3 linked regions of the Homo sapiens genome follow. The protein of the gene in region 1 interacts with the protein of each later gene in a pairwise test. Each region holds a gene or a part of one and is shown in the gene's direction. Other genes may lie near its edges.

Region 1 (4,417 bases):
CTTGCAGTTGGCGTTTGATTTCTCACTGAACATTCGTTGTCATAATTATAGACACTATGTGACTATCAAGGGCATAATATTCTTTCATGCTGCATTTTTATTAGATGGCACCTCAAAGTTTTCCCAAGTAGGTGGGTTTTAAATTATGAATATATACCGTGGCATAGTATCTTACTTAGTATTTTAATAAGATCCTTATTTATATAACAAATATTTTTTTTATTCCTCTGTAGTGCTACTTTAGTCTCTGAGCTAATTTTCATGAAGCCAATCTAAAAATCGTGTTACTTCTAAGGATGTGGAGCGAGTGAGATGAACAGTTGTGCTGTCATATTGCCCCTCCCCAGTGCAGACAGTGAATGAGGACCCACTGATTTAAAGGCAACACTGCAGCCCCTTCTTGCCTCATTGAAGTCCCAAGTTTTATTACAGTAAAAGCACTTAATGTTGACATTTCTGAAAGAATGAAGAGGCCGGGCGCGGTGGCTCACGCCTGTAATCCCAGCACTTTGGGAGGCTGAGGCAAGCGGATCATGAGGTCAGGACATCGAGACCATCCTGGCTAACACGGTGAAACCCCGTCTCTACTAAAAATACAAAAAAATTAGCCGGGCGTAGTGGCGGGCGCCTGTGGTCCCAGCTACTCGGGAGGCTGAGGCGGGAGAATGGCGTGAACCCGGGAGGCGGAGCTTGCAGTGGTCCGAGATTGTGTCACTGCACTCCAGCCTGGGCGACAGAGCGACAACGTCTCAAAAAAAAAAAAAAAAAAAAAAAGGAAAAAAAGAATGAAGAGCCAGAGCCAGGCATAGTGGCACGCCTGTAGTCCCACCTACTCAGGAGGCTGAGGCGGGAGGATCACTTGAGCCCAGGAATTCAAAGCCAGCCTGTGCAACATAGACCCTGTCTCTAAAAATGAATTGGTTATAAAGGATGAAGAAAGGAAGGAGGAAAGGGAGAGAGAGAAGCCCTTATAGAGTGGGTGCATTTCTTGTATGTGGGGCCACTTTGTAAGAACAGGATTTTTCAAACTGGGCCCATACTGGTATGTGTGAAATCAATTTAGTTGGTTATGGCCATTTTTTTTTAAAAGGAAATATCAGTGATCACTATAGTGTAAGTATATTGTTTCGTGAAAGCCATCTTAGTTATGTATTATGTCTGTATGTGTAAGATTGTGATATAAAATGTATTTCTGTGGTTAAATATTCAAAGAAATTGGAGAACCATTGCTACAAGGGGACAGAGGACTCCGTGTGAGCTCTCCTGCCTTCCCTGAATAAACTTACACAATTTAGTGCTGGGACATTTGAACCTTTTCTGAAAATTTGAGTCAGGGGAGAGCATCTTGGGGAGGTGGGAAGGAAGGTAGAAGGAGCAAAGCAACACCCCCCTGAAGCCTGGGAATATTGTCAGAACCTTAAATATAATTCAGCTCACCATTCTGGGTAAGGACAGACTCTACCAATGAAAATGGGTGATTACCAGCTGTGAAACACAAAAACATACTTTTACGGTTACACATTCCTTTACAAACAACCGTGTACATTTCAGCCTCCTGCCCCACCATTTCTTTTCTCCAGGAGGGAAGGCTGCATGTCGAGATGGTCGTAGAATGTTGAGTATCCTACTTTCCTACCTCGCTTTTATTTGCGCGGGTTTAAATGCGCCTTAACAGAACCCGTGCAAAGGCTTGCCTACTTGTCTGGCTGCACCGGATGAGTAGAGCATCTTCCTTGGTGGCAGGTGGGTGCGAGGAGGAGGGGGCTGGGCTTTTCTCCGGACGGTGTTTGCCCAGAAGACCATCATCCCTGGACTACGTTAGGAGGAAGTGGCACCGCTCCGAGGTAGGGGAAGAAGGGTTATAAAGGGGGGAGTCCACCACACATGGTCTTGAAGAAGCTTTTATAAAAGGCAAAGGCATCTTTGCCGGACGTTGTTGCAAAGGAGTAGAAACAAGCAGAGGAAAACATCCCAAAGGGTAACCACTAGCGTTCCTGCTTCTTGCAACATTCATCCCAGGCTTCCAGCTCAGCCCGCCCCGGGCCAGGTGATCGGCCGCCACATCCCCTGCGACTGAAGCACCTGCTCCGCCATGAACCTGCCAAGAGCTGAGCGCCCTCGCTCCACACCGCAGCGCAGCCTCCGGGACTCCGATGGGGAAGACGGTAAAATCGATGTCCTGGGAGAGGAGGAAGATGAAGACGAGGTGGAAGACGAGGAGGAGGAGGCGAGCCAGAAGTTCCTAGAGCAGTCGCTCCAGCCGGGGCTGCAGGTGGCCCGGTGGGGCGGGGTTGCGCTTCCCCGAGAGCACATCGAGGGCGGCGGCCCGAGCGACCCCTCAGAGTTTGGCACCGAGTTCAGGGCACCGCCAAGGTCTGCGGCGGCCTCTGAAGATGCCCGGCAGCCGGCAAAGCCCCCCTACTCGTACATCGCGCTCATCACCATGGCCATCCTGCAAAGCCCGCACAAGCGCCTCACGCTCAGCGGCATCTGCGCCTTCATTAGTGGCCGCTTCCCCTACTACCGCCGCAAGTTCCCCGCCTGGCAGAACAGCATCCGCCACAACCTCTCGCTGAACGACTGCTTCGTCAAGATCCCCCGCGAGCCGGGCCACCCAGGCAAGGGCACCTACTGGAGCCTGGACCCCGCCTCCCAGGACATGTTCGACAATGGCAGCTTTCTCCGGCGTAGGAAGCGTTTCAAGCGCCACCAACTGACCCCGGGAGCCCACCTGCCCCACCCCTTCCCTCTACCTGCTGCACACGCCGCCCTGCACAACCCCCGCCCAGGCCCTCTGCTTGGGGCCCCTGCCCTGCCGCAGCCAGTCCCGGGGGCCTACCCCAACACCGCCCCCGGGAGACGCCCTTACGCTCTGCTGCACCCGCATCCTCCTCGCTACCTACTGCTCTCGGCCCCCGCCTATGCCGGGGCACCGAAGAAAGCAGAAGGCGCGGACCTGGCGACCCCCGGCACCCTTCCCGTGCTGCAGCCCTCACTTGGTCCTCAGCCTTGGGAGGAGGGCAAGGGTCTGGCGTCGCCACCGGGAGGCGGATGCATCTCTTTCAGCATTGAGAGTATCATGCAAGGGGTCAGGGGAGCGGGTACAGGGGCTGCGCAGAGTTTGTCCCCGACCGCGTGGAGCTACTGCCCCCTGCTCCAGCGACCGTCAAGCCTGTCGGACAATTTTGCAGCAACAGCAGCAGCATCAGGAGGAGGACTGCGCCAACGGCTGCGCTCCCACCAAGGGCGCGGTGCTGGGCGGGCACCTGTCGGCCGCGTCGGCGCTGCTGCGGTATCAGGCGGTGGCAGAGGGCTCTAGGCTGACATCGCTGGCTGCCCCTTTGGGCGGAGAGGGGACCTCACCAGTTTTTTTAGTATCGCCCACGCCCAGTTCCCTGGCCAAGTCCGCAGGGCCCTCCTAGAGCCAGGTGGGAGTGGGGAGCGATCCGCAGCTGCTCACTCCACCTTGCGCGGCCCATACTGGGCGTGTGCATCTGAATCCTGCTGGAGAGCAAACACGAACTTCTGTTCCCTGCAAAATGGTTAGAAAGAAACAGCTGGATTACGTTCCTCTAAAAACCACCTGAACGTAACCTTCGCAGGGCGTCAAGTCATCTTTTCTTGCCTTCGGCTGTGGCTTCTGTGGCTTTCCGGATTTGCACATTTCCTGGGGTACTATGAACGTGAGTGGGGTATTTTGTTCTGGCATTAGAAGAAAAACAAGCAAGCAAACAAAAACACAGCCTCCGATGCCAAACATGTTCCCCCTTCTTCACTTCCTTGGAACTGGAAGTGTTATTCCTAAGTCTAGTGCAAAATGCTTCTACTCTCTGTGTCTTCCTGATAGGGATGTTTAATGTAAGTAGGATATTAATTTCAGAACATTGATTTCTTATCTGTGTGTCTGACGTGCCATCTTTAATGTTAAAATTAAGGTGTTAAAATTAAGCCTAGTTATATAGACGAAATAAAATGCTAAGTCACTACACTACATCGTTATTTTCTATTACGTCTCATTCTTCCCTTTCTAAATGGAACTTTTTAAAACCTACATTATTTTCCCTCAAACAATTTATTTTCACAATTCATATTTATTATAGATAGCAGAAGTAATCCATTTTAATATGGCCTTTAAAAATTCCAAATATTTGAGGTTGAAAATGTCCTGGCTTTTAAAATAGGAAATTTACTATTTATGAGACTTCTAAAAGAAAAGAATAGGAGGGCATGTAAATATATTCTCCATTTATTTTTCCTCACCCCCCAACAAGCTGGAAAACCGTTTGAGATCAATTTGGAATGTAGTGGCCAACATGTACTCAGGGAAAATAAAAGGCTATAAATGTACATATATATATATATATATATATACATTTTTTAAGCACTAGAATTTTCAAAACTTATTTCTTAAAAAAAA
Region 2 (3,530 bases), on another chromosome or scaffold:
AATGGTTCTACAAGCATGGGTAGTTCTAGATATGATACCTACATTTCCCTAAAAGATTGTACTGATTTTTAATGATAACAGCAATGTATAAGGATGTTGTTTTCACCACGATTTTACCAGCAAAAATATTTGGCTAGTTGAACACACATAAAATTATTGTTCTCTTTGCTTATAATCTGATAAGTGTTTCCATACCTTGGAACCTGGATCTGTTGGAACATGAAGGAATTCAGGACCCTTATACATGTTACCCCATATGGCTTCTTTAAAGGATATGGATTTTTGAGGATCCTAGAAATCAAAATTCTCTAATTTTATTCAGCTCAAAAAAAAATTTTATTCAGTGCTGCTGTCCTTATTTTCTGAATAATATTCAGATTCAGACCACACTGAGCCATAATTCCAATTCCCACTTGACTAACATTTATGTAGTATTGTGCTAGGCACTACATGTTATCTTAATTCTAATAATTTGGCATTTTTCCATATGAGAAAAATAAGATTTAGAAAGATTAGATTACTTGCCCAAAATCACTTAACCAGTAAGTGGTAGAGACAGGATTTGAATGCAGATCCTCTAAGGCCAGTGTTTATTCTCATACTGCATGATCCCTCAGTATCACTACTAAAATTTACTGGAGGATAATGGAAAGTGGAAAATCTGAACTGGAACTTGGGACAATCAAGCACTGACTTACCTGTGTTCATAATGAAGCATTTAGCAGAGATGTTGTTTGTTGTTTTGTTTTGTTTTTACTGGGGAGGCTATAGTACATAAACAGAGCGAAAGATCTTGGTATGGTTAAACCCACATTTTCAAGGCCTTCTGTGTTCTCCCTGATGATCAGGTACCTACTACCCCAAAATCTGTGATGGTAACAAAGAAGGAGGAAGGCAGCTGTAGAAAAGCAACGGCCTTTGGGTATACCCAGTAAGATTTATGTGATTGTAGAAAGAGCAGGCAAATGGCTTGGCCTTCAGAGAATCCCACAAAGTAAAGTAACCTTTTAAAATAGTAACTTAAAGTCTGACATAAGATTCTTAACAGGATATTCATCACAAGATAAGATATTCAAAGCATAGCGTGTAAGACATTCAAAGCATATCAGCAAAAAAGGAGAGATTCCTTCATTTTTATTGAAGTATGGTATACTCACAAAACAAATTTAATATCAGGAATATAAAACAAGAGATACGATGTTCCAATTCTGGCTTTAGTCGGATATTATAAAATTTAATCCCAATTTATAGATAAGGCAATTCAAGGCTCGAGATTACACACCAAATAAGTGGACTCTAGGCTGGGTGTGGTGGCTTCTGTAATCCCAACACTTTGGGAAGCCAAGGCAGAAGGATCGCCTTAGCTCAGGAGTTTGGGACCGGCTTGGGTAACATAGTGAGATGCTGTCTCTACAAAAAAATAAAAAATAGCCAGACATGGTGGTATATACACATGTGGTCATAGCTACTCAGGAGGCTGAGGCCAGAGGATCGCATAAGCCCAGGAGTTCAAGGCTGTGAGCTGTTATCGAGCCACTGCACTCCAACCTGGGCTACAGAGCAAGACTCTGTCTCAAAAAAAAAAAAAAAGGAGGGGGGAGCCTCTAGAACATAGGCCTTTAATCTGTGTGGTTGTTTTGCAATTTATATGTATAATTTTTAAATAATATGTTGGCCGGGCACAGTGGTTTGTATCTATAATCTCAACACTTTGGGAGGCTGAGACAGGAGGATTGCTTGAGGCCAGGAGTTTGAGACTAACACAGGCAACATAGCAAGACCCCATCTCTACTAAACAAAATAATAATAATTTAATATGGTGGGTTTTTTTGTTTTTTTTGTTTTTTTGAGACGGAGTCTTGCTCTGTCTCCCAGGCTGGAGTGCAGTGGCGCTAGTGAGCTCATGCAATTCTCCTGCCTCAGCCTCCCAAGTAGCTGGGATTACTAGCGCTTGCCTGCTTCAAAAGAAATGATTTCCAGCACCCCATTTTTTCTTTTCCAGCCTCAAAATTCATATCTCCTTTTTTTCCCCCATGTCCACATGTCCTTCATTCCTATACTTCATAGCTTTAATTCCTGTTCTCTTGATACAAACCTTCATGTTTGTTGCTTGATGGCATCATAATTATCATAACTTTTTGGCTTAATAACAGTAGCAGTTATATCAACAAATAATAAAATGTTCATACTTTTGAGCCAATAATTCCACATATAGAACTTCATTCTGAGAAAATACTTTAAATAAGAAAAATAGTTAAAGGCACAAAATGTTAATAGCACTGATATCTATACTGTCTAAAACTTGAAACCTTCTAAATATTCAACAATATAATAATGCCTAAGCAAATTATTGCCTATCTACTCAGTGGGCTGTAAGACATTCATTTTTCACAATAGCGTCTTTAAGAATACATTGAAAGATGTTGTAAGAATGTTTTTGCAAAAATGAAAAGGAGAAACATCAGAAGAAAAAGTAGAAAAACTAATGTGATTGGTGTCTATTTCTGAAGCATTTATATTTTCTATATAATAATAATTTACATTTACTGACCACTTACTTGTGTCAGGAACAATACTCAAGCAACATTATAGAAGCAACAATTTGTAGTTATTGAAAACTGGTGTTCTAGAATCAAATCTGAGCTTCATCACTTACTAATATGTGGTCTTGAAAAGGAAATGGAGGATAACTATGTCTACATTAAATTATTAAATCTATATAAAGTATTTGGCACATACAAAACCTACAATAAGAATGTTTTTGTTATCAGACATTTTATAAATATGTCTCATTTAATCTTCACATCCTCACAGTAACCTCATTAGATAGTGTTAACGTTCATTTTACATGAAAGAAAATTGAAACTTCAAATGTTTAAATACTCTAGGTTAAATAACTTGCCGAATCACTTAACTAATAAGCAGTAGAGTTTTTATTCAGAGCCCAAGCTATGGTTTCCACTTATGACTCTGAGAGATGAGGTTGCTGCAGACTAATGCTTTTGCTAAGAACAGGAAAGATGAGAATTAAAAAGAAAAGTGAAGGCATCAGAGACCTGCTGAGGCATCCAGGACTTAAGAAACCACAACCATAGAACCAAAGGAGCTTCAGAGAAGTGGGCTGATGTTCCATGCTTCTCTTTTTTCCTAGGAATTTGCTAATTCTTAGAGCATGACAAGATGCTGTGAAACTTAGCAGAGGGTTTCTTCTAAAAGCAGAGAAGCTGTTAGTTTTATGGGGCGGAGCAGACAAAACTTGGATTTTAGAGATCTCCAGGTAGCTAGTTCTTGGGTCAAGATCCCTAGAGAAGGACAGTACCCAGAAACTTTTTTAAAACTTGTTTTCCCCTCACAGTGTTTGCTAGGCAGAGTCTAGAACTGTAAGAAAGTTAATTTGTATTGCTTTAAGCCAATAGCTTTGGATAACTTGTGACAGCAACAATATGAAACTATTACAGAGACATGAGGAAATGATGAAGAAGTCTAACATACATATGACTGGAGGAGAGAAAGTTAGAAGCAGTAATATT
Region 3 (3,530 bases), on another chromosome or scaffold:
AGGCGTCGGGCAGGTACTGGGGAGTGAAGATGTGATGTAGCTCTCACTCCCCACGCGCCTACACATGACTGTTGGCCTCTCCACACACCAAAAGCCCGGAAGCGTTTTATATTTCACCTTTCCTAGAACGAGAAATGAAATTCCAGAAAAGAAAACCATGGCCTGCTTTGCCGCCTTTACCTTAAAATAGATATATTGTAAAGATCTATTGCACTTTAAAGACATTGAAACAACACAGAAGGATAGGAAATGAAGAGTGAAAGTCTGCTCTTAACTGCACTTGGCCTGGCCTTCTGATGCCAGGAGGCGAACAAGTCTGTAACCTAATGACAGCACCTTCCTTTACTCAGAGACGCTTAGACAGGAGCATTGACAGATTTACTCAAGATAGAAGAGTATTTATGAATAACAATTATGAACTTGTACAAAAACTCTTCCCCTGATTTTAAGAGAAAGTATGAACATTTACTTGCTTCCTTGTTAGGAACCTAAGTAGTTGTATTATGTATTGCTTGGCTTGGAATGCTCTGTGTGTGTATATATAATATAATGACATATATTATATACATTTATACATAGTTTGGTCCTCTCATATAGCCTGCTTCTCTTTCAAACCTTTTCATGTAGGTGTTTATACTCTGCTAGAATGTTTGTCTTCTTAAGCATATTTGTCAATCCCAAGAAATGTTACTTGTTTTTAATATCCTCAAGCTACCCTGAGACTCAGACATAAGTTAGAACCCAAATGTTTCAGCTGGGGGATTTTGTGTATTAAAAAATAACATTGGAATATAACATGTATCTTGATGGCAGTTGGTCAACTTTTCTGGCAGAATATTTTGATATAGCATGAAGTGGTTCACAAATTAAGAAGACCCCTGTTGGGTGGACTAATTAAAGTTGATTGACTTTGTCTAGCCTGCTGTGGACCTAACACACAGATAGTCTTCTAGATATTGGGAGAGCCTCAGTTTTTCACTTTTAATAGTAGCATAATGCTACTATTAAGTTTTTCAACTCTTTATGGAGACAAATGAAACAATAAGTTGAAGACGGCTTTAGAGGACTTCTTGGAGAAAGGCCTTAGCCACAGTTTTATTATCATGCATTACAAATATTAGAAGTGTGCTTTTTGTCTATGGAGGTAGTGGCTGGAGTTGGTACCTATGCTGATGTCGTTGATGGGATGACACGTGTGGAGAAGCATGTTGGAAGTTGACTGTCTCTGGCACAGGCTGCTAGGGAATGAAAACTAAACACTCTTCTGACCATTTGCATCATTGAGTCAAGCAGAAAAAAAAATCAGTTAAGTAACTCCCTGGAGTGACTTATTTCTATTTCCATGGGCATATTGCCTTTGCTTATTGTCATTTGCTTTTAGCTATTTTTGCAAAGGTGCTGAAAGGCTGTCTCTGAAGTCAGACAGTAACATTCAAAATTATAGACATTATCTATGTATTTTCCTATCCAATCTCTTACTTTAATGTCCGAAAACACAAGAGTGTGGGAAAGAGAGAAACCTCTATAACTCAATCATGCTACAGCAATTTTCATGGCCCCCAAAGTTACTTCAGTGAAATATTTCAATTCAATTGAGTCATGAGTTTGAATGTTAAATTTCCCCAGCTTTCATTAGTCTTTTAAAAATCTCTGGGTTTAGAGGCCTTGCAGTCAGGCAGCCTTGACTGTGAATCCTTTCTCTGCCACTTTCTAGCTTCTGGTTCTTGGTGGAGTAGTAGTGCTTGGGAATTGCTTTATCTGCAGAATGGGAATCATGATACTTAGATAATATGCTGGTTTTTGGTTCTAGACAGGTGTCTGACACATGGTATGCACTGTAATTGTGTTTATTGTCTTTCATGTAATTCCCAAAATGTCTTGAAGTTTTTATTTTCACAATCAATAAGCTTGAGAGGGTGTGTGAAGTGTGTGTGTTTCAGAGGAGTTGACATATGGATAAGTGTGAGAATACTCCCATCCAGGCCCTGGGGTCAAAAGCAGAGTCTGGGAGAATTTTAACAATAGTTTGTGTTGCTGGCAGAGGAAGGACAGAAGAGGGCCTTTGTGCAAGGGAGGCCCAGCGGCATGGACACTTCTCTGCTTTCCGAAACAAGTTGTTGCTTTTCACTTCAGAGGTCTGGGGACATTTCTGAGAAGCTTGCAGCCCTCATTCTTCCAGCTCTCTTGGGAGGAGTAGAGGAGTAGCTGCTGACTGAGGCAAAGGTTTGGCTGGCTAGAGCCCCCTCCAGTGAGACAGGAGGCTTACATAGTCAGCCCTCCTTTGCTGTGAAGCAAATGGCAAATCGAGGGCTCCCTTACCATGCTGGGTTGCGATTAGCTGTTCCTGACACAAACGTTTCATACAGACTCACAAGTTTCTTGGGCATTTCGGTCATTTCAGCGCAGATAGGGCACATCCAGGGTGATCCAACAGGCCTGGCTGCGGCCAAGGCTGGCGGCGGCAGGTACCCGGGTGCCCCGAGGGCCACCCGCCGCCCCGCTCTGGCGCATCCATCAGTGGCCAGCTTTCACCGTGTCTGCCAGGCGGGACTCGCCAGGTGTCAGGCTCAGTGCCATAAGCCTGACACTTGCGCGGGGTCGCCGTGGCTCCTCAGGGAAGCTGGGCCAAGGAGGCTGGGTCGCGCCGGCGGGCGCCGAGGCCACCTTCTCGGGGCAGGCCATCCGCGCTGAGGCGCAGACACGGCGGCTCCTCCAGGCCCATTAATAACCCGGAGGGCGCTGCGATCCGACAGCGCAGTCGCCACAGGCTCTATTTCCCGTGGCCGCCTGCCTCCTTCCAGCCCAGTTCGAGTGGAGGGATACTGGGCGCCCACTACCGCCCGGCCCGGAGGGTGGGGGTCCCTCTCGCGCAGGCTGCTTTGGAGAGTGTCGGAGAGAGACAGCTTTATCTACAGCTTCACCCATTGTATAGCACAACAGAATCGCATTTAGCCTGGAGAACAGCCGTCGGGGCAGGAGTTGGTGCCTTCTCTAACAATTAGGCTGATCGTTAAATTTGCTATTCCTTTCTTCCGGCGTCTAGGGAGAGCGTGCACACCAAACCCTCCAGAACAGCACCCCGGTCCCCCACCCCGCCCCACCTGTCCCCGCCCTGCTTCAGTGCCTGGAGGGAGAACTGACTGGTCGCTTGAGGGACCCCATTTCGGGCGCGCCCTTGGAGTCCTGGGGCTGCGGCTCCTGCTCTACCGGGCTGCAGGCTTGCTCTGCCCCGTCCCGTGGCGTTTGGGAGGCAGTCGAGGAAGCCTCCGAGTCTCTGGGTCGAAGGAAGTGCGAATGGCACCCGCGATAGACTGGCCGTCTCCCCCACCCCGCCCCGTCTGGTGATTTTAAATCGTCTCCTGTGTAATTGTAAAAAGAGGAAAGCTGAATACCCAGACGACCAGTATAGAATCTCTTCGAGACAGCAGATTGGGCAAGAGACGGGCTTTTTTTCGCAATACAAGGATAAACACATCCTGAAACTCCAGATAGAAACCTCAGGAATGGGCGAGAGGGTCAGAAGGAACGAG

What was found. Proteins that work in one complex are often made in the same cells at the same time.
Region 2: the proteins of FOXD4L1 (region 1) and HMG20A interact in binary tests that used the Homo sapiens proteins (3 or more experiments, as listed by UniProt).
Region 3: the proteins of FOXD4L1 (region 1) and PRDM6 interact in binary tests that used the Homo sapiens proteins (3 or more experiments, as listed by UniProt).

What each region holds. Positions count from the first base shown.
Region 1 is NC_000002.12:113,497,165-113,501,581, forward strand, and holds FOXD4L1 (forkhead box protein D4-like 1), read left to right. Parts: upstream 1-1,500; 5' UTR 1,501-2,092; coding exon 2,093-3,319; 3' UTR 3,320-3,986; downstream 3,987-4,417.
Region 2 is NC_000015.10:77,427,388-77,430,917, forward strand, and holds part of HMG20A (high mobility group protein 20A), read left to right. Parts: intron 1-3,530. UniProt on the Homo sapiens protein: Plays a role in neuronal differentiation as chromatin-associated protein. Acts as inhibitor of HMG20B. Overcomes the repressive effects of the neuronal silencer REST and induces the activation of neuronal-specific genes.
Region 3 is NC_000005.10:123,095,741-123,099,270, forward strand, and holds part of PRDM6 (putative histone-lysine N-methyltransferase PRDM6), read left to right. Parts: intron 1-3,486; exon of another isoform or gene 3,487-3,530. UniProt on the Homo sapiens protein: Putative histone methyltransferase that acts as a transcriptional repressor of smooth muscle gene expression.